7 linked regions of the Homo sapiens genome follow. The protein of the gene in region 1 purifies or fractionates together with the protein of each later gene. This does not show direct contact. Each region holds a gene or a part of one and is shown on either strand. Other genes may lie near its edges. The genes, in order: SH2D4A, DFFA, SNAP23, PGAM4, TF, DTD1 and NDRG1.

Evidence for each region.
Region 2: the proteins of SH2D4A (region 1) and DFFA purify together in Homo sapiens (co-immunoprecipitation; one large-scale study listed by IntAct). This does not show direct contact.
Region 3: the proteins of SH2D4A (region 1) and SNAP23 purify together in Homo sapiens (co-immunoprecipitation; one large-scale study listed by IntAct). This does not show direct contact.
Region 4: the proteins of SH2D4A (region 1) and PGAM4 purify together in Homo sapiens (affinity purification with mass spectrometry; one large-scale study listed by BioGRID and IntAct). This does not show direct contact.
Region 5: the proteins of SH2D4A (region 1) and TF purify together in Homo sapiens (affinity purification with mass spectrometry; 3 studies listed by BioGRID and IntAct, with this or other methods). This does not show direct contact.
Region 6: the proteins of SH2D4A (region 1) and DTD1 fractionate together in Homo sapiens (co-fractionation; one large-scale study listed by BioGRID). This does not show direct contact.
Region 7: the proteins of SH2D4A (region 1) and NDRG1 fractionate together in Homo sapiens (co-fractionation; one large-scale study listed by BioGRID). This does not show direct contact.

The regions. Positions count from the first base shown.
Region 1 is NC_000008.11:19,320,193-19,323,692, forward strand, and holds part of SH2D4A (SH2 domain-containing protein 4A), read left to right. Parts: intron 1-3,500. UniProt on the Homo sapiens protein: Inhibits estrogen-induced cell proliferation by competing with PLCG for binding to ESR1, blocking the effect of estrogen on PLCG and repressing estrogen-induced proliferation. May play a role in T-cell development and function.
Region 2 is NC_000001.11:10,466,030-10,469,529, reverse strand, and holds part of DFFA (DNA fragmentation factor subunit alpha), read left to right. Parts: intron 1-191; coding exon 192-353; intron 354-2,197; coding exon 2,198-2,340; intron 2,341-3,500. UniProt on the Homo sapiens protein: Inhibitor of the caspase-activated DNase (DFF40).
Region 3 is NC_000015.10:42,512,634-42,516,133, forward strand, and holds part of SNAP23 (synaptosomal-associated protein 23), read left to right. Parts: intron 1-321; coding exon 322-363; intron 364-765; coding exon 766-814; intron 815-2,603; coding exon 2,604-2,721; intron 2,722-3,500. UniProt on the Homo sapiens protein: Essential component of the high affinity receptor for the general membrane fusion machinery and an important regulator of transport vesicle docking and fusion.
Region 4 is NC_000023.11:77,967,449-77,970,891, reverse strand, and holds PGAM4 (phosphoglycerate mutase 4), read left to right. Parts: upstream 1-1,253; coding exon 1,254-2,018; 3' UTR 2,019-2,943; downstream 2,944-3,443.
Region 5 is NC_000003.12:133,770,393-133,773,892, forward strand, and holds part of TF (serotransferrin isoform 1 precursor), read left to right. Parts: intron 1-115; coding exon 116-180; intron 181-3,500. UniProt on the Homo sapiens protein: Transferrins are iron binding transport proteins which can bind two Fe(3+) ions in association with the binding of an anion, usually bicarbonate.
Region 6 is NC_000020.11:18,759,054-18,762,553, forward strand, and holds part of DTD1 (D-aminoacyl-tRNA deacylase 1), read left to right. Parts: intron 1-3,500. UniProt on the Homo sapiens protein: Possible ATPase involved in DNA replication, may facilitate loading of CDC45 onto pre-replication complexes. An aminoacyl-tRNA editing enzyme that deacylates mischarged D-aminoacyl-tRNAs.
Region 7 is NC_000008.11:133,248,753-133,252,252, reverse strand, and holds part of NDRG1 (protein NDRG1), read left to right. Parts: intron 1-1,709; coding exon 1,710-1,813; intron 1,814-3,481; coding exon 3,482-3,500. UniProt on the Homo sapiens protein: Stress-responsive protein involved in hormone responses, cell growth, and differentiation. Acts as a tumor suppressor in many cell types. Necessary but not sufficient for p53/TP53-mediated caspase activation and apoptosis.

The sequences.
Region 1 (3,500 bases):
TAAGGAAAAAAATCATAATACTATCTTTTTTTAGTGTGAATGAGTTTCTCAGATGTAAACTTTTCCTCGTTATCAAAGGAATCTCTGGTAGTTTGAGAGGGTTCTTTTGAGACCATGGGGGAGGAAATCTTTGTACATTAAGACTTAAAGCAGACAAGGTGCAGTGGCTCATGCCTGTCATTGCAGCACTTTGGGTGGCCGAGGTAGGAGGATCACTTGAGTCCAGGAGTTCTGACCAGCCTGGAAATATAGTGAGACCTTTTCTTTAGGAAAAATAAAAAATTAGCTGGGCATGGTGGTACATGCCTATAGTCCCAACTACTTGGGAGGCTGAGGTGGTGTAATTGCTTGAGCTCAGGAGATCGAGGCCACACTGAACTGAAATCACACCTCTGCACTCCACCCTGGGTGACAGAGTGAGACTGTGTGTCAAAAAAAAAAAAAAAAAAAAAAAGACTTAAAGCATATACACATACAGACACAGAAAAATACACATTGTCCACCCTCCTCACTCCGTTCTCACTAACCCCCACACCCCCGCCTTGCTGTTTACATGCGAAGTCTGTCATGGGTGAATACCAAAGTTGTGAAAACACAGCACACTTTTCAAGGTCACTTGCAGAGGCATCTAAGACCGTCTCTTTTCATGTTTCATTAAACCAGGAAAATAAAATTTTGTAAAATCACATATGGTTTCAAAGATTGAGAAAATGAATCTCTCTTGCATCCCTGGTATATGCCCAGGTTCACAAAGGAGGTCAGTGTAGCGTCCTTTACTTTTTACTGTCTTTTATTAAAACTTTTTTCCAGTGATGCCTTTATCATGACAAGGAAATAAACAGAAATATGTCATTTCCTCTTGTTATGATCAATACAACTATTTATGAAACACCTCCTGTTTCAGACACTATGTGAAGCACATTTATGCATATAATGCCTAACCTTCACAAAACTTCTGCAAAGTCAGCAGTGACAGTCCTGTTTTACAGATGATGAGACTTAGAGAAGTTCATTTTTTTTTTTGCTTGTTTGTTTGTTTGAGATGGAGTCTCACTCTGTCGCCCTGGTTGGAGTGCAGTGGTACAATCTTGGCTCAATGCAACCTTCGTCTCCCGGGTTCAAGCAATTCTCCTGCCTCAGCCTCCCAAGTAGCTGGGATTACAGGCATGTGCCACCACACCCAGCTAATTTTTGAATTTTTAGTAGAGGTGGGGTTTCTCCATGTTGGCCAGGCTGGTCTTGAACCCCAGACCTCAAACGATCTGCCCACCTGGGCCTCCCAAAGTGCTGGGATTACAGGCCTGAGCCACTGAAGCTGGCCATGAAACTTAGATAAGTTGAGTAATATATGCAAGGTTATACCACCAATAGATGCCCAGTTCTGTTGGATTTTACATTATTCTGCACTATCCAAAATACAACTTTTCCTCCAACAAATAACATGGCCAAACTGAAACATAACTCTTTTTCTTTCTAAACTGGTTTATGCACCTTCTTGGATTCCCCAGTCAGAGTTTTTCAGATATAATTGGGTCTCTTCTGGGCACCATGTTCACTGTGAACATAACATATATTAGTGTGATGGGGTGACCTTGGGGACTAGCAGCCAAAGGGTTCTTGCCACTAGAGTCAATGGCCCAGACTCTGTTAGACTTTGGGTTTCTCGTGTTTGCTGAATTGGTCTCCTTGTGATGACTTAAAATAATAATTTCAGTTTCTTTGCTTACATTTCTCGCTTGTAGGGTTTTGAATCTACCTCTCAGAAACCCTGTGTTAACTTTGTTAGTCAAATGATCATGAGAAAAGTATGTTAATATAAGTGGGGAAAGTTCTATCAATATCTCACGTCAAAAGTGTATTACTCCCTTAAATTGAAAACTTGGAAAAATATATTTTGCATTAAATTAGTTCCTCTTCTGACTACAGAAAGGGAAAAAGTTACTCCCACTTCCCCTAAAATCCCATCACTTCTCTTTCATCTTGCGCTGTCTTTGAAGATAAAGCCATAGACCGTCCAAAGCAATGCTGTCATGGCTGGTGCTGCCAGAGGTGCTTATCTGTGCTGCAGACCTGCTAAGCCCATGACCCTTGTGGGTTGACAGGTCACTCGTGCATCTGATCCCTGAAGGCTTGTGCTCCCTGCCTCCCCTTCTCCCGCCTTTCTGGTTAGTACTGAGCTAAGTGCTGCTTTTTCTTAGCAGTTCTTAGCCACACGGTGGTTTTGAAGGTTGTTCATTTCATTAAAAACATCATAGGCCACCCCTGCCATTCCTTGACCCCCTCTAGCTTATCACTTAGAAGTTCCTTCATTGTCATCTGGTCATTTTTCACTACGAATACACAGACCCCTGTGCTTAGTGTTTGGGGATCATCACTAAAATTGTTGTGTATTGTGCATCACAGAAACTTGTCTATTATTCTTTTTTTTTTTTTTTTTTTTTAAAGACAGAGTCTTGCTCTGTCTCCCAAGCTGCAGTGCAGTGGTGTGAGATTTCAACTCACTGCAACCTCTGTCTCCCTAGCTGCAGTGCAGTGGTGTGACATTTCAACTCACTGCAACCTCTGCCTCCCAGGTTCAAGCGATTCTCCTGCCTCAGCCTCCTGAGTGACTAGCTGGGATTATAAGCACCTGCTACCATGCCCAGCTAATTTTTGTATTTTCAGTAGAGACAGGGTTTCACCATGTTGGCCAGCCTGGTCTTGAACTCCTGACCTCAAGTGATCCACCCACCTCCGCCTCCCAAAGTGCTGGGATTACACGCATGACCCACCGTGCCCGACTTGTCTACTTGTTAGTAATCTGAAGGCTGAAGTAGAAGGGGCTGAAAAACTATCAGCATGTGAATTTAACTTAGTACTATATGAGAAGATCATTTCTGATTTCTGTAGTGGGAGAATGTGATACTTAGGGAGAGACGTATGGATCTACTCTGCTTGCTGGGGTAGCTAGAGGTCTACAGCCGCACCGTCCAGTGCAGTCACCACAAGCCACATGTGGCTCTTGAGCACAGGAAATGAGGCTAGTCTGGATTGAGGTGTGCTATACATGTAAACTACCGGATTTCAAAGACTTGGTAGAAGGAAAAGATAATGCCACATTAATAATTGTATATTCCTTATATATGGAACTGATGATATTTTGTATATCTTGGGTAAAGTAAAATACTTAATTTCACCTGTTCCTTTTGATTTTTTTTTTTTTTTGAGACAGAGTCTCTTGCTCTGTCTCCCAGGTTGGAGTACAGAGGCATGATCTCAGCTCACTGCAACCTCTGCCTCCTAAATTCTAGCGATTCTCCTTTCTCAGCCTCCCAAGTAGTTGGAGTTACAGGTGTGCGCCAGCACACCCAGCTAATTTTTGTATTATTAGTAGAGATGGGGTTTCACCATGTTGGCTAGGCTGGTCTCAAATTCCTGACCTTAGGTGATCCACCTGCCTCGGCCTTCCGAAGGGCTGGGATTACAGGTGTGAGCCAGGGCACCCGGCCTCCTTTTGATTT
Region 2 (3,500 bases), on another chromosome or scaffold:
GAAAAGAACACTTAGAACAGAATCAGGCACGTGATGAGTGTTCTGGTAGTGCTAGAAGTGATGATTGTGATTCTAGTTATTACCTACCAGGAGTTCTGCTCAGCTCTGGAGCCATACATACTTGAGATGCAGGGATAGATGTAATTTCCTTACGGTTATTTGTCATTTGCCAAATATTTTATTCTTTTCAGCCTGTGACATTCTGGCCATTGATAAGTCCCTGACACCAGTCACCCTGGTCCTGGCAGAGGATGGCACCATAGTGGATGATGACGATTACTTTCTGTGTCTACCTTCCAATACTAAGTTTGTGGCATTGGCTAGTAATGAGAAATGGGCATACAACAATTCAGGTAAGAAACTCTAGCCATGTATAAAACGGCCTATGCAGTACAGCATCCATCATGATTACTTTCACTGCACAGACAATTGCCATTTGTCTGGCTTTTTAAGCATTTGTTCAACAGATATTTACTGAGCACTTTCTATGTGCCAGACATGGTGCTGAGTCCTGGGGATAAAGATGAATGAGGCCAGGCACGGTGGGCAGATCACCTGAGCTCAGGAGTTTGAGACCAGCCTGGCCAACATGGCGAAAGTCCATCTCTACTGAAAATACAAAAACTAGCTGAGCATGGTGGCAGGCACCTGTAATCCCAGATACTTGGGAGGCTGAGGCGGGAGAATTGCTTGAACCTGGGAGGTGGAGGTTGCAGTGAGCTGAGATTGTGCCACTGCACTCCAGCCTGGGCGACAGAACGAGACTCTGTCTCAAAAAAAAAAAAAAATAGATGAATGAGACATGGGCCCAGTTCTCAACTAACTCATGGACAGACAGCAACTGAAATGCAGCCTGGCAGGGAGCTCAGTGCTGCAGGCTGCAGTCCAGCTGTTGAGGTCTGGATCCTGGCTCTACCATTTACTAACCAGGTGACCTTGTGCAAATTACATAACTTCTCAGTGCCTTGTTGACATAATAATTATAGAACCTGTCCCCTAAGATTGTTGTAAAGATAATATAGTACATATCAAACCAGGGTTTCTCAATGACACTGCTGACATTTGGGGCTGGAGTTGTGAAGAGGATGCTTTGTGTATGATAGGACGTTTAGTAGCATCCTAGATGTTACGAACCTCCCCCCACAACTGTGATAACCAAGAATAAATGACTCCAGATATTGTCAGATGTCTCCTGGGGGGCAAAATTGCTCCCACTTGAGAACCACTGATATGAAGTGTTTAGATCTTACCTGGCACATAGTTAAGGACTCAATAATTGTTACCTGTCCCTGCCATCATCATCATCACAGGAGATAGAAAGGGGACTAACATTGGTGACCAAGGATCAAGAAGTGTCTTGAGAGGGGATTAGTTTTAGGGAGGGACTTAAAAAAAAAAAAAGTGTCCTGAAGTGTGCCACAAAATTGAGGAAGTCATCCTACAGCAGTGGCCCTACCAGCCACCTTTGTGCTCAGGCCTAAGGGACAGCAATCGATGGCTACAGCTCTGCCAGTTAAAGAAGGGACCAATCCCCAAGCACAGAGAAATGCTGGCACAAATGACCGTTTTCGTATAAAAAACAGGACACACCTGGACACACAGAAACCAGAAAGGGAAGTGTGATTGGATTCCTTGTAGGTGTGACCACACATTGGGTTTAAATGGCTTTTTCTATGGAAGAATACAGAGCCGTTGCACACAGAGATAAAGATGAAAGAGGGTCAGGCACGGTGGCTTATGCCTGTAATCCCAGCACTTTGGGAGACCGAGGTGGGCAGATCACTTGAAGTCAGGAGTTTGAGACCAGCCTGGCCAACATGGTGAAAGCCCGTCTCTACTAAAAATACCAAAATTAGCTGGTCATGGTGGTGGGCACCTGTAATCCCAGCTACTTGCAAGGCTGAGGCAGGAGAATCGCTTGAACTCGGGCAGTGGAGGTTGCAGTGAGCCAAGATCGTGCCACTGCACTCCAGCCTGGGCAACAGAGTGAGACTCTGTCTCAAAAAAAAAAAAAATGAAAGAAGAGGGAAAATCAAGGTCCTGGATGGATATTGACCCTCCTGTGAATCCTTGAGATAAGATGCTTCTTTCCCATTGAAATTAATCTAGATCCTCAAGAGGTCTGTGTGTGCTGGGGGAGGAGGTGAAAACAGCACTTCAGGTTGTTCTGTGACTGGCATTTTCTCCCATGTGTCAGATGGAGGTACAGCTTGGATTTCCCAAGAGTCCTTTGATGTAGATGAAACAGACAGCGGGGCAGGGTTGAAGTGGAAGAATGTGGCCAGGCAGCTGAAAGAAGATCTGTCCAGCATCATCCTCCTATCAGAGGAGGACCTCCAGGTAAAGCCTCCTCCACAACCTGCAACAATGTTCATCCAGCCTCTGCCCCCCGCCCCAGCACCTTCTTAGCTTCCATACTTGCCATAGCAATTTCTTTGTTTTAATCTTAATTTTTAAATAATTCTTAAATTACAACTAAGATTTTTCATCTTCTCATTCTCACCTAGAGTAATTTTTCAACCCTCGTCACGAAGCAGAATTACCTGTGGATTTTTTTTTTTTTTTTTTTTTTTTTTTGAGACACAGTCTTACTCTGTCGCCCAGGCTGGAGTGCAGTGGTGCAATCTCAGCTCACTGCAGTCTCCACCTCCCGGGTTCAAGCAATTCTCCTGTCTCAGCGTCCCAGGTAGCTGGAATTACAGGTGCACACCAACACGCCTGGCTAATTTTGGTATTTTTAGTAGAGACAGCGTTTCATCATGTTGGCCAGGCTGCTCCTGAGTTCAAGTGATCCACCTGCCTCAGCCTCCCAAAGTGCTGAGATTATAGGCGTGAGCCACCGTGCCCGGCCAGATTTTTTTTTTAATACAAATGCCTGGGATCCACCCTAAACCTAGTTAGGTGGACGCTGGGGTCAGGGATGCCCTGCTAGAGAATGTAGCGTTGGAGTAGATGGCTTCACATCCCAGCGCTGTCACCACGACTTTGAGCCAGTAGCTTAGCTTCTCTCCTTGTGTTTTCTCTCTAGTAAGATTGGGATAGGCCAGGTGCAGTGGCTCACGCCTGTAATCTCAGCACTTTGGGAGGCCGAGGCGGGCAGATCACGAGGTCAGGAGATCGAGACCATCCTGGCTAACATGGTAAAACCCCATCTCTACTAAAAATACAAAAAATTAGCCGGGCCTGGTGGTGTGCACCTGTACCTGTAGTCCCAGCTACTCGGGATGCTGAGGCAGAAGAATCGCCTGAACCCAGGAGGTGGAGCTTGCAGTGAGCCGAGATCGCACCACTGCACTCCAGCCTGGGTGACAGAGAGAGACTCCATCTCAAAAAGAAAAAAAAGATTGGGATAAAAACAGTATGTTTTCATTCAAAGAAAATTTCTCTTTGAGACAGGGTCTTGCTTTGTCACCCAGTGCAGTGGCATGATCATAGCTCACTGCATCCTCGACTTCCTGGGCTCAAGCCATCCTCCCACCTCAACCTCTCAGGTAGCTGAG
Region 3 (3,500 bases), on another chromosome or scaffold:
CCCAAAGTGCTGGGATTATAGGCTTGAACCACCACACCCGGCCATTGTTTTGTTTTAAAGGGAAGGATAGGCTGGCAATTCTTTTTGTTTTTTCCTTTAATGGAAACAGTCTCACTATGTTGTCTGGGCTGGTCTTGAGCTCCGGTACTCAAGAAATCCTCCTGCCTCGGCCTCCCAAAGTGCTGGGATTATAGGCATGAGCCACTGTGCCCGGCCTGAGCTGGCAATTTTTAAAGATAGAATAGCATCATGAATTTGGCCTGTGATCAGATTTTTTTTTCTACATATTTTGGAATGCTAAAATTCTGTGTTCTTTCCTAGTCTCTGGAAAGTACGAGGAGAATCCTGGGTTTAGCCATTGAGGTAAGAAAATGTTAGTCATCAACTTAAGTATAGAAATTTATAGGAGCGATCCTAATACTTCTGGCTGGAATTAGTATTAAAGGGTAATGTATCAATATGCTTTATTATTTGAAATTAACAGTTGCTGAAATGTCAAACCATGCACTAATGGGAATTTTCTGTTTTTCCCTTTAACAGTATTGGAATATGACAGGGAAGATGAATTCACTATGAGTTTGTGACTTAATTATTTTGGGGGCTGCTATGTTAAAGTGTGTTAGTTTAAGAATACTAGTTCTGTCTGTAGCTCTAATCCTCTGAGAGCTTGGGTTTCTAAATTATTCTGTGTTGCTCTTGTAGGTTTTGTTTCTGTTGTTTTTGGTTTGTTTTGTTGTACTATCAGCTTTTCCCCCCTTGTCTTAGTCTCAGGATGCAGGAATCAAGACCATCACTATGCTGGATGAACAAAAGGGTAAGTTAAATTATTAGCAGAAATTCTTAATTTGACTGTGATGCCAAAAAGCCCTATCAAATTAGCCACATACAAATTTCAGCCTTTGGGAGAGCCTTCCCTTTGTAAAATAAGAATGTTATGTTTACTTCTTGTCTTCTGATTTGAATTATATATCATGTTCACTGTCTATTTGGGATGGCAGGCAACAATGCCCAATTGTATATACCAAGTATGTGTTAGGCCAGCATGGCTTATTTTGTGTATTGGTTATATGTGCCTTAGACATTATGATAGTAACATAGCTGGGATTACAGGCACCTGCCACCACACCCAACTATGTTTTTCTTTTTTTTTGGGGTGGGGGACGGAGTTTCGCTATTTTTGTCTAGTTTTGGGGGTGGGGGATGAAGTTTCGCTCTTCTTGCCCAGGCTGGAGTGCAATGGCGTGATCTTGGCTCACTGCAACCTCCTCCTCCTGGGTTCAAGTGATTCTCCTGCCTCAGCTTCCTGAGTAGCTGAGATTACTGGTGCCCACCACCACACCCGGCTAAGTTTTTGTATTTTTAGTAGAGACGGGGTTTTACCATGTTGGCCAGGCTGGTCTCGAACTCCTAACCTCAGGTGATCCACCCGCCTTGACCTCCCAAAGTGCTGGGATTACAGGTGTGAGCCACCGTGCCGGGCCTTTTGTTTTGTTTTGTTTTGTTTTTTTAATTTTTATTTTTTGAGTCGGAGTCTTACTCTGTCACCCAGGCTCGAGTGCAGTGGTGCAATCGTGGCTTACTCCAGGATCCTCTACCTCCCACGTTCAAGTGATTCTCCTGGCTCAGCCTCCTGAGTTGCTGGGATTACAGGTGTCCACCACCACACCCAGCTAATTTTTTGTGTTTTTAGTAGAGATAGGGTTTCACCATGTTGGCCAGGTTGATGTCGAACTCTTGACTTCAAGAGTCACTTGATCCGCCCACGTCGGCCTCCCGAAGTGCTGGGATTATAGGCGTGAGCCACCGTGTCTGGCCAGACATTGTGATATTCTTACATCATCCTCAGAAATCAAGTTCTAAAACAGATCTAGATTCAGGTATGCTTGGAAACACTTGAGTTGAGTTGGCCCTGAGTAATCAGGTCTAGTTTTTATTACTCTTATAATAGCCCTCAGGTTTTGAACCTATTATAGAAATGATGGGGATTTGACCTCGTCAAAGTACCCTTAACTTGGTTGTAAGGATGATCTCTAAATAACCGTCCCTTGGTCCTACTATACAAGATTCTTTTTTTTTTTTTTTTTTTCGAGCGGGAGTCCCACTCTGTCATCCAGGCTGGAGTTCAGTGGTGCAATCGCAGCTCACTGCAACCTCCAACTGCCGGGTTCAAGCAATTCTCCTGCCTCAGCCTCCCAGGTAGCTAGGATTACGGCACCCATCACCACACCCAGCTAATTTTTGTATTTTTAGTAGAGATGGGGTTTCACCATGTTGGCCAGGCTGGTCTTGAATTCCTGACCTCAGGTCATCGCCCACCTCGGCCTCCCAAAGTGCTGGGATCACAGGCGTGAGCCACCATACCCAGCCATATACAAGCTTTTTAGAACAAATTTTTCCACAGCAAGAGGCTAGGTGCCTCCGGATCAGTACGTGAAAGATTGTTATCATGTTGAATCGCTTCTAATACCTTTTGACACTGACATACTCACTGTGGGGAGTTATTGGTAGATTCAAGGTTGAAGTTTGCTGTTCCATAATAATAGCATTTTCTGGTTGACACTGTGAATGGAACACAAAGTGTTAACTTCACAACTTATTCTTAGAACAACTAAACCGCATAGAAGAAGGCTTGGACCAAATAAATAAGGACATGAGAGAGACAGAGAAGACTTTAACAGAACTCAACAAATGCTGTGGCCTTTGTGTCTGCCCATGTAATAGGTGAGTTGATAAATTAAGATGGTTTCAAAATAAGTAATGAGAGTACCCCACCTTCTCCCACCAGCTAAGGTCAGAAGTATGACTGGGCTTAATGAGGAACTCTATTAGATAAATCTAAGTTGTCTCTCCTTCAGGCAGATTAAGCTTTTTGTGTAAATACTGCGTGTTCACTGAAAACTGTGACTTACATTTGACCAATCCTGGGATCAAGTCCAATTTCAATTTGTAGTAATACATGAAAAGGTTAGGAAGTATAGGGAAATGTATATCTGGATGATGGAAAGCAGGATGGAGTTATTTTCTTTTCCTTTCAAAGGAGGAGTATTAACAAAATATATATTTTGTGGTAGGCACATGAGGGATGGCCAAAAGAGTAGAAGAGTTGGGAAAGAATGGCAAAACATAAAAAATACATAAATCTAATGTTAGATTATATGATAGTGAGCAAGGCTAAATCTAATGTTAGATTATATGATAGTGACCAAGGCTAGGTATACAGAACTGATAAAGGTTGGGTTGGAGAGCATCTTATAGAAGAGGTAGGATGTGGATTGGGCTTTGAGTGATAAGAAGGATTTGGATGAACAGGGAGGAACAGTGAGGGCATTTCCTATGAAAGGTTCAAAATAAAGATTAACAAGGAGCTTGACTTAACTGAGCTGTGTGACTCATGTAGATGAGAAGTGGAAAGTAAGATATAAGTAGGTAGTAGAGGAACTTGAATGCCAAACTAAGGAGTTGACAGATTGGAGTGGAGTATAAAAAGAAACGACAGTATC
Region 4 (3,443 bases), on another chromosome or scaffold:
GTACCACCTTCTAACATACTCCATAACTTGCTGATTTATTCTGTTTATTGCTTATTGTCTGCCTTCCTGTGGTGGTTTTAAAATACGCCCACAAATTCTTTGCTACTCCTTCCTTCAAGAGGTGGAATTTAATCCTTTCCCCTTCGGTGTGGCCTGAACTTAATGACTTGTTTCTTGTTTTTTGTTGTTGTTGTTGTTTTGGTTTTTGTTTTTGTTTTTGTTTTTGAGACTCAATTCTGTCTCGCAGGCTGGAGTGCTGTGGCACGATCTCAGTTCACTGCAACTTCCGCCTCCCGGGTTGAAGTGATTCTCCTGCATCAGCCTCCCCAGTACCTGAGATTACGGGCGCATGCCACCACACCCGGCTAATTTTTTGTATTTTAAGTAGAGACAAGGTTTCACCATGTTGACTAGGCTGGTCTCGAACACCTGACCTCAAGTGATCCACCCGCCTCGCCCTCCCAAAGTGCTGGGATTACAGGCATGAGCCACCACACCTGGCCTAATGACTTGTTTCTAATGAATAGACTACGGTAGAAGCGACAAGGTGTGACTTCCAAGACTAGGTCATAAAAAACATTGCAAGAGGAGAAAAAAGCATTGTGTTTTCCTTGTTGTCCTCTCTCCTGAATCACGCAATCTGGGGGAAGCCACCTACCAAGTATGAAGACATACAAGCAGCCTTATGGAGAGGTTCATATGGTGAGGAACTGAGGCCTCATGTCAAAAACCAGCAAAGACCTAAGGCCTCCCGCCAATAGCCAGGTAAGTGAACCACCTTGGAAACTGCTCCTTCAGACCTAAGTTAAGCCTTTAAACTACTACATCCCCAGACACCATATTGACTACAACTTCATGAGACACCCTGAGCCAGAACTACCCATCTAAGCTGCTCCCAAATTATTGAGTCATAGGAAATGTGAGATAATAAATGTTTGTTGCTTTAAGCCACTAAATTTTGGGGTTATTTGTTACACTGCAATAATTAAGTAATACACTTCCCACTAGAATAAAAACTCCATGAAGATAGGACTCTGTTTTTTCACTGATATTAGGCTGAACCACATGAAATCATCATAGTCAAACACCGGCAATTTCATATAAATCAATCTAATATATCCCATGGAAACAGTGGTTCCTCTGGTGAGGGGAAATGAGTGGTTAGGGAATAAGGGTGGGAAAAAGAATTTTCAGCGTATAACCTTTTGTACCTTTTACTTCAAATGGTATAAAAAGTATTGCAGCCCACCGCCATGGCCGCCTACAAACTGGTGCTGATCCGGCACGGCGAGAGCACATGGAACCTGGAGAACCGCTTCAGCTGCTGGTACGACGCCGATCTGAGCCCGGCGGGCCACGAGGAGGCGAAGCGCGGCGGGCAGGCGCTACGAGATGCTGGCTATGAGTTTGACATCTGCCTCACCTCAGTGCAGAAGAGAGTGATCCGGACCCTCTGGACAGTGCTAGATGCCATTGATCAGATGTGGCTGCCAGTGGTGAGGACTTGGCGCCTCAATGAGCGGCACTATGGGGGTCTAACCGGTCTCAATAAAGCAGAAACTGCTGCAAAGCATGGTGAGGCCCAGGTGAAGATCTGGAGGCGCTCCTATGATGTCCCACCACCTCCGATGGAGCCCGACCATCCTTTCTACAGCAACATCAGTAAGGATCGCAGGTATGCAGACCTCACAGAAGATCAGCTACCCTCCTATGAGAGTCCGAAGGATACTATTGCCAGAGCTCTGCCCTTCTGGAATGAAGAAATAGTTCCCCAGATCAAGGAGGGGAAACGTGTACTGATTGCAGCCCATGGCAACAGCCTCCAGGGCATTGCCAAGCATGTGGAGGGTCTCTCTGAAGAGGCTATCATGGAGCTGAACCTGCCGACTGGTATTCCCATCGTCTATGAATTGGACAAGAACTTGAAGCCTATCAAGCCCATGCAGTTTCTGGGGGATGAAGAGACGGTGTGCAAAGCCATAGAAGCTGTGGCTGCCCAGGGCAAGGCCAAGAAGTGAAGGCCAGCGGGGAGGATACTGTCCCCAGGAGCACCCTCCCTGCTGGTCTTGTCCCTCTGCCCCTCCCACCTGCACATGTCACACTGACCACATCTGTAGACATCTTGAGTTGTAGCTGCAGATGGGGACCAGTGGCTCCCATTTTCATTTTAGCCATTTTGTCGCCTGCACCCACTCCCTTCATACAATCTAGTCAGAATAGCAGTTCTAGAGCACAGGTTCTCAGTCTAAGCTGTGGAAAAGCTCCCCTTATCCAACAGAGTTTAAAAGTAGTGACTTGGGTTTTTGTGAGTGCTTTGTTTACTAAGGACTTTGGGGAGGAACATGCTAAGCCACGACCAATGAGGAGAAGCAACAGAGCCTGTCTGTCCCCATGAGCAGAGTCTGTCCTCTGCTCTTCTGCAGTCAGGCCACTGCCTGGGGGCTCTAGTCATTCCAGTGGAAGATGAATGTAATCTGCATGGTGATGTGACAACTGTTTCCTCCTTGACCCCAGAGGATCTGGCTCTAGGTTGGGATCAATCCTGAATTTCGTTATGTGTTATATTTACTTTTATTAAAAAAGTATAGTATATATTAATAATACAAAACAATAACCCTTCTGGGGTTTCTTGTGGCGGTTGAAATAGTCCCACATGTGGTCATCAGAAAATAAGCCATTCCTCATACCAATATAGGATCAGCTCCTTGACCTCTGAGGGGCAGGAGTGCTTCCTGGTGTGTGTATTAGAATCCCTTCCTGCCTTGTTTCATGGCAGTGAAATGCCTCTTGGTCCTGTCCAAGTGTGTCTTTCACTGATTTCTGAATCATGTTCTAGTTGCTTGACCCTGCCACATGGGCCCAGTGTTCATCTGAGCATAACTGTACTAAATCCTTTTACCAGATCAGTATAATAAAGGAGTGATGTGCAATTAAAAAAAAAAAGTATTACAACATCATTTTAGTTTTGGTGAGCTCAGAGAAACTTAAGCAGAAAATGCTGAACCATGCCCGCTGCTACTAACAAAGCAAGATGATTAATGGACTCTTGTAACTTCTCCAACTAATTTCTGTGGAGCTTTGAACAATTAGACCACCCAGTCTATGGTATTATGTTATGGAAGCCTGAACTAAGACATATGCATTCTTTTTTAAATTGGGATATAATTCACATGCTATAAAATTCAGCCTTTTAACCTACAGAATGGGAGAAAACATTTTGCAATCTACCCATCTGACAAAGGTCTAATATCCAGAATCTACAAGGAACTTAAACAATTTACAAGAAAAAAACAACCCCATCAAAAAGTGGGCAAAGGATATGAATAGACATTTCTCAAAAGAAGACATTTATGCGGCCAACAAACATATGAAAAAAAGCTCAACATCACAGATCATCAGAGAAATGCAAATCAAAACCACAATGAGATACCATCTCACACCAG
Region 5 (3,500 bases), on another chromosome or scaffold:
AGTTACAGTTGCTGTTTTCAGATGGCTGTCCTGAATCTATAAGGTAGCCCCCTGAATGACAGATAAGTCACTCTGACCGCCTTTTTTTTTCTCTCCCACTTCTGGACCTCTGCAGGTGTCTGGTTGAGAAGGGAGATGTGGCCTTTGTGAAACACCAGACTGTCCCACAGAACACTGGGGGTAAGTGCACCTGCTCCTCTGTCCCCCTAGATCACTAGATCCTGGTCACTGGTATTCACTTGTATTCAGGGATGCCTTTGTGGAAGTATTATGTACACTGTCAGACTTCAAAGCTCTGATTCTCAGTCTGTCTGCTCAGTGAAGAGAGACATGTTCACCTGAGTGCGCAGAATGATCAGGATTATGGGGCCCCCAATGGCCCTAAATCCTCCCCAACACACACTCCCACAGCTGCAAGCCTTGTGCTCCTTTCCCCTAAATACTTCAGTGCCTATTTCCTAAGAATAAGACAATCTCTTGCATACCCACAGTATGATTACCAAGATCAGGATCTTTTACATTATGTGGATTTAATACTCGTCACGTCCACAGTCCACATTTAACTGTTGTCAGTTATCCCAGTAATGCCTTTTATAGCTATTTACTGTACTTCTGGGTTGTGTCCATTGAGAAGGCCTAGAGGCAATGGCATACCAGCAGGAGTAAGCACCAAGATATTGGCTTGTAAGTACTCTTCTTTACTAAAAGGAACCAGAACTCCTTGGAAAAATAGCTGACTTCAGGGCTGGGGCAGGAAAAATAGATGCTGAGCCTAGAACAACACACTGAAGTGCTCAAACAGTGATGGGACACTCAAAGCATACAAGAACCAATTTGAAGGATCTCCTGTTGCCAAGTCTGGGAATTTTGAGCATTAAAATAAATAATGATAGCAGTAAGGGATAATAGCCCATTGAAAGAAATAAGAATGCATGAGGCAATACTGATTAAACAAATGAAGAAGGGAAAACTAATCAATGTGGAAGGAATGATAGAGTTAGAAAACTATCACTTGGCAACCAATATATTGATAACTGATTCAAGCAAGAATCAATGGGTGTTAAGCCGGGCGCAGTGGCTCACGCCTGTAATCCCAGAACTTTGGGAGGCCGAGGCGGGTGGATCATGAGGTCAGGAGATCGAGACCATCCTGGCCAACAAGGTGAAACCCCGTCTCTACTAAAAATACAAAAAATTAGCCGGGCGCGGTGGTGGGCGCCTGTAGTCCCAGCTACTCGGGAGGCTGAGGCAGGAGAATGGCGTGAACCTGGGAAGCGGAGCTTGCAGTGAGCCGAGATTGCGCCACTGCAGTCCGCAGTCCGGCCTGGGCGACAGAGCGAGACTCCGTCTCAAAAAAAAAAAAAAAAAAAAAAAGAATCAATGGGTGTTAACTTGTGGGTGAACGTTGGACAGCCATAATATTAATAAAAACAAACAAAACAAAGCAAAACAAACATTGGCCAGACTGAGCACTCCACACCTGACCCCTCAGTATCACTAAGTGCTAGCAGAGCCCACTGGAATTCAAGCTGTGAATACTTCCCTGCCTTCTCTCATGTTCATTCCCCAACTCCTCACTTTTCCTGGGCAACTCATCCAGAATGAACCGGCTCAGCACCAGCCCCTCCAGGAAGCCTTCCCAGATGGCATACCCTGTCCTACAAGAAGACTCCTCTGTTCATATTGCCATTATGATTGAATTCACCACACTCTGTAATACACTTTGGCTACAGAAACTCTTTGAGCTCTTTTTCTTCATCTTATATTCCCAGAACCTAGTGTAGCACATAGTACACAGCAGTTGCTAAGAATTTGTTTGCAGAAATATTGGGTTGACTAATTTTCCTTTCTTCCCTCGTATTATTGCTTTTTCCTTTAAGAGAGTGTTACCCTAAGCTTGGCTCTTTGCCACCCTTGATTTCTTTTGGTACTTTTCTGAGTAGAGCTCCCTTCTTTAAGCTTTGACTCTCTTACTCTTTGCAATGACTCAAAAATTCTTCCCTCCTGCATAGAATTAAGATAGGAGGCCTGACATCCAATCTCAATTCCATTCCAGTCTATTTCCCAAGGTGTCACTTTTATGTAGAGAGTACATTGGCATTGCAATTGTATTTTTTTACGTGTGTATATGGATGTCCTCATATATTGTAGTTGTATATATACAATCCATATACAACTCAACTGTCCTCATCTTTCTGTCAACGTTCCCTCCTCTTCTCCCAGCCTCTATCCTTATAGAGAATCCTGCTATACTCCCTGCCCATCAGGCCTAGATTAAGTCTGTCAGTCAATATCTTATTTCTTCAAAACGTGTCTTTTTTCAAACTAAATTTTGAAATAATTGTGTGTATTTAAGGTAGACAACATGATTTTTAAGAGCCAAAGTAATTTTGATGTATTGTAAGTTTGGGAACTACTGGTCTAATACCCCTGACTTAATATCACATTCCTGATAAATATTACTAAATGTAAGTCACATCATGTCTGATTCATCATACTTATATTTTGCACCTTCTTACCTTCTTCTGTTATTAATTTGTTGCTTTTTCAACTTATATTTTAGATTGAGGGTACATATGCAGGTTTGTTACATGGTATACTGCATGATGCTGAGGTTTGCGGTATGATTGAACCTGTCACCCAGGTAGTGAGCATAGCACACAACAGGTAGCTTTTCAACTCTTGCCCCCCTCTCTCCCTCCTCCAAAATCTGTCTTAAGTGCTATGGTATATACAAGAAGGAAGACACAAAACCACGTGGGCTTTTTTTTTTTCTTTTTTTTCTTTTTGAGATGGAGTCTCACTTTGTTGCTAGGCTGGAGTGCAGTGATGTGATCTCAGCTCACTGCAAACTCCGCCTCCCAGATTTAAGTGATTCTCCTGCCTCAGCCTCCCAAGTAGCTGGGACTACAGGCGTGCACCACCACGACCAGCTAATTTTTGTATTTTTAGTAGAGACGGGGTTTCACCATGTTGGCCAGGATGGTCTCCATCTCTTGGCCTCATGATCCGCCCACCTCGGCCTCTCAAAAGTGCTGGGATTACAGGTGTGACCCACCGCGCTCAGCCCACATGGGCTCTTTTATCACAATTTGTGTGTGTGTGTGTGTGTGTGTGTGTGTGTATGTGCATATTATAGGTGTGTGTAGGAAAAAGAATGTTAGAAATGTACCAATTTTGAAGGCGTAGACTATGAAATTACAAATGCTTCAAAATTTTCTTCCCAATACTTACGTGGCATTTTATAAATTTCCACCAATAAACGTGTATTATTTTTATTGAAAAAGCATATTTTTAACATGCCCTTCTAGATGCCCTCCTAGCCAGACTGAATCACCTCCCATTTGATTTTTCTTAATTTTCTACCTTTAGGTTCTGGCTCATTCATTAACATCAATTTCCATTCATAAGTCCTCACAAACCCACTTTTCCTCTTGCCTGAGTGCCTCACATACCCTACTGCCTGAGATGGTTCCAGAGGCGGTCTCCTCTCTCCCTTA
Region 6 (3,500 bases), on another chromosome or scaffold:
CAACCCCTGCCTTTTTTTGTTTTTTCATTTGCTTGGTAGATCTTCCTCCATCCTTTTATTTTGAGCATATGTGTGTCTCTGCACGTGAGATGGGTTTCCTGAATACAGCACACTGATGGGTCTTGACTCTTTATCCGATTTGCCAGTCTGTGTCTTTGAATTGGAGCATTTAGCCCATTCACATTTAACGTTAATATTGTTATGTGTGAATTTGATCCTGTCATTATGATGTTAGCTGGTTATTTTGCTCGTTAGTTGATGCAGTTTCTTCCTAGCCTCGATGGTCTTTACAATTTGGCATGTTTTTGCAGTGGCTGGTACCTTTGTTCCTTTCCATGTTTAGTGCTTCCTTCAGGAGCTCTTTTAGGGCAGGCCTGGTGGTGACCAATCTCTCAGCATTTGCTTGTCTGTAAAGTATTTTATTTCTCCTTCACTTAGGAAGCTTAGTTTGGCTGGATATGAAATTCTGAGTTGAAAATTCTTTTCTTTAAGAATGTTGAATATTGGCCCCCACTCTCTTCTAGCTTGTAGAGTTTCTGCCGAGAGATCCGCTGTTAGTCTGATGGGCTTCCCTTTGTGGGTAACCCAACCTTTCTCTCTGGCTGCCCTTAACATTTTTTCCTTCATTTCAACTTTGGTGAATCTGACAATTATGCGTCTTGGAGTTGCTCTTCTCGAGCAGTATCTTTGTGGCGTTCTCTGTATTTCCTGAATGTGAATGTTGGCCTGCCTTGCTAGATTGGGGAAGTTCTCCTGGATAATATCCTGCAGCATGTTTTCCAACTTGGTTCCATTCTCCCCGTCACTTTCAGGTACACCAATCAGATGTAGATTTGGTCTTTTCACATAGTCCCATATTTCTTGGAGGTTTTGTTCGTTTCTTTTTATTCTTTTTTCTCTAAACTTCTCTTCTCGCTTCATTTCATTCATTTGATCTTCCATCACTGATACCCTTTCTTCCAGTTGATCGAATTGGCTATTGAGGCTTATGCGTTCGTCACATAGTTCTCGTGTCGTGGTTTTCAGCTCCATCAGGTCCTTTAAGGACTTCTCTGCATTGGTTATTCTAGTTAGCCATTCGTCTAATCTTTTTTCAAGGTTTTTATCTTCTTTGCCATGGGTTCGAACTTCCTCCTTTAGCTCGGAGTGGTTTGATCATCTGAAGCCTTCTTCTCTCAACTCGTCAAAGTCATTCTCTGTCCAGCTTTGTTCCATTGCTGGTGAGGAGCTGCATTCTTTTGGAGGAGGAGAGGTGCTCTGATTTTTAGAATTTTAAGTTTTTCTACTCTGTGTTTTCCTCATCTTTATGGTTTTATCTACCTTTGGTCTTTGATGATGGTGACGTACAGATAGGGTTTTGGTGTGGATGTCCTTTCTGTTTGTTTGTTTTCCTTCTAATAGTCAGGACCCTCAGCTGCAGGTCTGTTGGAGTTTGCTGGAGGTCCACTCCAGACCCTGTTTGCCTGGCTATCAGCAGTGGAGGCTGCAGAACAGTGGATATTGGTGAACAGCAAATGTTGCTGCCTGATCGTTCCTCTGGAAGTTTTGTCTCAGAGGAGTACCCGGCCGTGTGAGGTGTTAGTCTGCCCCTACAGTGCGGTGCCTCCCAGTTAGGCTACTCAGGGGTCAGGGACCCACTTGAGGAGGCAGTCTGTCTGTTCTCAGATCTCAAGCTGCATGCTGGGAGAACCACTACTCTCTTCAAAGCTGTCAGACAGGGACATTTAAGTCTGCAGAGGTTTCTGCTGCCTTTTGTTTGTCTGTGCCCTGTCCCCAGAGGTGGAGTCTACAGAGGCAGGCAGGCCTCCTTGAGCTGCGGTGGGCTCCACCCAGTTCGAGCTTCCCGGCCGCTTTGTTTGCCTACTCAAGCCTCGGCAATGGTGGGCGCCCCTCCCCCAGCCTTGCTGCCACCTTGCAATTTGATCTCAGACTGCTGTGCTAGCAATGAGCGAGGCTCTGTGGGCGTAGGACCCTCAGAGCCATGCGCGGGATATAATCTCCTGGTGTGCCGTTTGCTAAGACCATTGCAAAAGCGCATTATTAGGGTGGGAGTGACCCGATTTTCCAGGTGCTGTCTATCACCCCTTTCCTTGGCTAGGAAAGGGAATTCCCTGGCCCCTTGCGCTTCCCGGGCGAGGCGATGCCTCGCCCTGCTCGGTGTGCTGCAGCTACTGTCCTGCATCCACTGTCCAGCAATCCCCAGTGAGATGAACCCTGTACCTGAGTTGGAAATGCAGAAATCATTCGTCTTCTGCGTGGCTCACACTGGGAGGTGTAGACTGGAGCTGTTCCTATTTGGCCATCTTGGCTCCACCTCTGATAATTATTATTAACATAATGCTTTGGAATACTTTTTCTAAACAGGTAATTCTACATCTGTTTCTCTAACTTTACAAAGTTGGAGACATACTGTATATATATAGTGTCACCTGTTTTTTATCTTTTAACAGAATATCTTTAACATTTCTCTAGGTCATTCTTTTACTGTGAGCTTTATAATTTCCATCTGCACATCAAATATTTGAAGACTAAATTATCCCAATGCATTAAAAATGTAGAATATTGTAGAATATTTAATTGAAGTAAATGTAAAAGAAAAATACGTTCAACCAGGATTCCAAAGCTCATCTTAAGTTCAAAAACAAAGATTTTAATCTGTGCCAAGAAGATGGAGTTTCTCAAAGGTCAATGTGGGGAACAATTACAGTATTTCAGTTATTGGTATTGAAGGTAGGGAAACAAGTATGAATAGTCCCCAGGTCCGTAACTTGGGTTAACATCATCCACACAATGTAAGAACAAATGGGTTGTTTCTAATAGCTAAAAACTGAAAGTAATATGGTCCCCAGGAATGATGTTGTCTGTTCTCCACCCACTGGTTGTCTTTTAGAAAACTCTTAGGAAGGTGTGCAGGACTCTTACAGGTGGGTTTGGGTGTACGAGGGTAGCCCTTGGGGATATGGTGGCAGACAGAGCTGCAGAGCATGGGCTAGCTGTGGTTCCAGCTTGCCTTTCTCATGTGTGCACAGGGACTTCGCTATCCAGCTGGGCAGGGGAATGAGGGCTGTTAGTCTATGGAAGCATCTGCTTGTGATACAACCCTTTCTTAAGAAGGTGGCCTGCACTGAGTGTATCAGGAAGCACATCCATGGAGGTGGCACTGCCATGGCATATTGAGTCGTATTGAAATCTTTTGCTTTTACTGAAGTCCATCCAATTAGAATCTAGATCTGAGGGAATAGAAACTCTTCTGTTAGGCTTTAGCTTTAGTTTAACTTTTGGATGACAAATGCATGCATCATAGATCTCGGCAATACTAGCTGGTTTTTGTTATAGCCTCGGAATTACAAAAGGAAACCCTGAGACACTTGGACTTCTGTACCAAACAGCCAGGCATCCTTTGAGTAGTATTTAAAATGTCGCAAGACTAAGCATTTAGTTTATTCCCTCCCTGTCCCTGCATTTCCTTAAGCTCCCATCCCTCTACCTCCCTCATTGTT
Region 7 (3,500 bases), about 110 Mb from region 1:
GTGGTGGCACGCGCCTGTAATCCCAGCTACTCGGGAGGCTGAGACAGGAGAATCACTTGAACCTGGGAGGCAGAGGCTGCAGTGAGCCGAGATCGCGCCATGCACTGCAGCCTGGGTGAGACAGAGGGAGACTCTGTCTCAAAAACAGAGAAAAAGGAAAACAAAAGTGTATTCTCTCACAGCTCTGAGTCTAGAACTCCGATGTCAAGCGCTGGCAGGGCCGCCCCTCCGCCACAGGCTCCAGGGGAAATTCGTCCTTGCTTCTTACTGCTCCAGGTCGCTGTCGGCATTCCTTGGCTAGTGGCTGCTCACACCACTCTCTGCCTCTGTCTTCACATGGTCTTCTCCTCTGTGTCTGTTTTATTTCTCCCTCTCCTTCCTCTTTTAAGGATACTTTCCATTGGATTTCATCCCGGCTCATGTAATCCAGGATTATCTCATCTCAAGATCCTTAATTAATTACACCTGCAAAAACCCTTTTTCCCAGCAAGTTTGCATTCCCAAGTTCAAGAGATTTGACATGGACATATCTTTTGAGGGCCACAGTTTAGCCCACTAGAGTCCTCTTTCCCCTTTTACGATTCATTCCACAGCGTGTGACACATTTTCCCTGTCCTGAGTGTGTAATCTGAAACTGATAGGAATTGGGAAAAATTCACAGCCACTGTCTCTGTTTCACTGGAGGAGGGATGTCAGACATAGCGTTGAGCATCTGATCTGATTATACCCCAAGTTATTTGGAGACTGGTTGGTCCGGCCATGGTGTCTGAGGGTACCCCCAGATCGCTATAGTTGGTTTTGATCTGAAATCCCAGCGTGATTCCTGACTATTTTTTCCAGAGTTTGCTCTTAGTAGCCAGTTGACCTCCTTGCTGCCTAAATGATCCTGGACTGTTTGATGCAGCTCAAGCTTGACACCGGCTTTCTTTGACCCCCAACTCCAACTTCTCATCTGGTTGCCACTGGTCATATCAGACCCTTGTGTGAAACCTACAGTGTCTGCCCTCGTACAAATGAGAAACAGAGCAAACAAGTTGTTTGTCGCAAATAACATTCAAAAAGCACCCAGAGACGGGGAGGCTGAGGCCGACTTCCCCAAGGCTCTGGTTGGCCGTGGTGGGAGTTGCAATTGCCCTTCTTTTCAGTAACTTCCTGTGGCATGAGTTGATTTTGCTTTTCAAGCATGAAAAACTTCTTTTCAGCTCTTCCCATTGGAAAACAATTACTAACATTTGCCTCCAATTTTTACTGTTAGTAGAGGTGAGAACACAACCTCCATTAAGTCCTACAACCTAGTGAAGTAGGCAACATTCTCTCTCTTCCCTTTTTTTTTTTTTTTTTTTTAAGAGATCTGAGGCTCAGAGAGGTTGAAAGATTTGCCTACGAAAGGGACAGTGATGAAGCTAAGCTCTAGATCCAGGATGTCTGACTTCAAATTGAAACTCCCAAAGTAATGAGTTTGGAAGGGTGGGGTGTGGCCTTTCCAGGATGGGGGTCTTTTCTGCTCCCAGCGGATAGTGAAACCCCTGTCTGCACCTGGTTGGGCGTGTTGCTTTCCCAAAGGTTTTTTTTTTAGGTCCGTCGCTGTCTTGTGGATTAGGCATTATTATCTTTACTTTGTCTCCAAATAACCTGGAGAATGGAGAGAGTAGTGACCAGCTCAGGGCCACAGTGCGATGAGGACCATCTTCTCACCTCTCTAAATGCAGGAAGAAATGCAGAGTAACGTGGAAGTGGTCCACACCTACCGCCAGCACATTGTGAATGACATGAACCCCGGCAACCTGCACCTGTTCATCAATGCCTACAACAGGTATTGGGATGTAGTTCAGCCACATCATTGCTATTTATGAGGTGTCTTCTGTAGATCCGAAATGTGGGACAGATGAGAGGGAGAGTATAAAATGAGCGGAAGAGGCAGGCTCTGAGTTTGAGCAAATAGATTAATAGGACAGGTGTCCCCAGGAAGGACACCTGGCCTGTAAGCTGGTTCCTGGCATTCAGCTCGCCTTGCAGGGATCTGAACAAACACTCCAGACCACTGGGGGTGCAGACGTGAGAGGGACGCAGTCGCACACTCAGAGGGTTGAGAGTAAATATGTGTGCCCGCTGCTGACCTTCACGAAAGGCCAAATGTAAGAAGAGCTAAGTGAGAGAGCAGCAAAGCACTCCTGGAGGCCGGGGATAATCCAGGCAGGCTTCTGGGAGTTTGTCATTCCAAGGATAAGGAGGACCTGAACATGGCCTTTGCCTAAGGCGTGGCCCTCTCAACCAGCACTAGGTGCTTATCTGGAGCTCAGCTAGGGGAGGAGACAGCTCAGGGCCATTGGTGTCAGCCAGAGACTCTGTAATCTTCCAGGGAGCTCGCTCAACCTGCTGAGCTCGCTCTGCCACGCTCGCAGAACAGGAGATAGAAATGAGCCTCATAGTGTTTATCTCTGCTCAAATGTTAATAAAGTGACTTCTTGAAATTAACATTTGTAACAGAGCTTAGTATCTGCCTCCTTTTACAATCCTGCCCTCATCTCAGTGGTAACATCCTCACTGTGGATGTGACTGAAGAAACCGAAACCTGGCAGTGCGGTTCACTTAGTAAACACTTTCTGAGAACTGGAGCGAGTCAGGCATTCGGCTGGGCGCTGGAGACACAGAGGAAACCAGCACAGCCCGCAGACTCCACACTGTTAACTTGCCCGTGTAGATAGCACCGTAATTAACTGACCCCTCTCCAAATCCCACTGTGAAGGTCCTGGAATTACTGTCATTTCCTGTTGAGGAAGCAAAGGCGCAAAGAGATCCTGTGTTCTCCCCAAGGCCACACAGCTAGAAAGTGGCAGAGCATGATTTGGATCCTGCTTGTCTAACTCCAGGCTGTGAGCTGGGAAAGAGCTTCTCATGTTGGGAGCTGCAAGATAGCAGAGAGGGTGGGTGGCTGCGTGCAGGAAAGGTGGTCGGCACTGGGCTGGACCCACACTGGGCCTCACACGAGTGCAGTGGGAAACCACCACAGGGTTTGAGACAGGGAATGGAAAGATGAGGCCTGAGTTTTAAAGAGATCATTTGGGTGCTTTATAGAGGACTCAGAGTTGGTGAGGCTGGGACTTAAACTAAGAGGCTGCGAGAGCATTTGGGAGGTGGCCCCTCTGTCAGGTGGGGGCTCTGACTAGGGGGACAGGGAAGGCGGGGACCCTCTATGGTGGAGAATCTGACTTCTACTCCTGGAAAAAAAAGCCCCACAAATATTTGTGACAAAATGAGGGGGCTCTGCTTGAAATGCATGTGTTGTGCTGTCCCTCTAACCAGGTCTGTGGACACCAAGAGGGTGTGGAGTCCTGAAAGCCACAGGGCCTCTCTCAAGTTGGGGATGTGGGTAGCTTACCAGAATGGCCACTGGCAGGACCTCCTGGGCTTGGCTGGATGGGAGTGGGAGATTTCTCCAGGGGAGGGGTCCTCATGCTAATGATGCATTTGTTTCCTGCAGCCGGCGCGACCTGGAGATT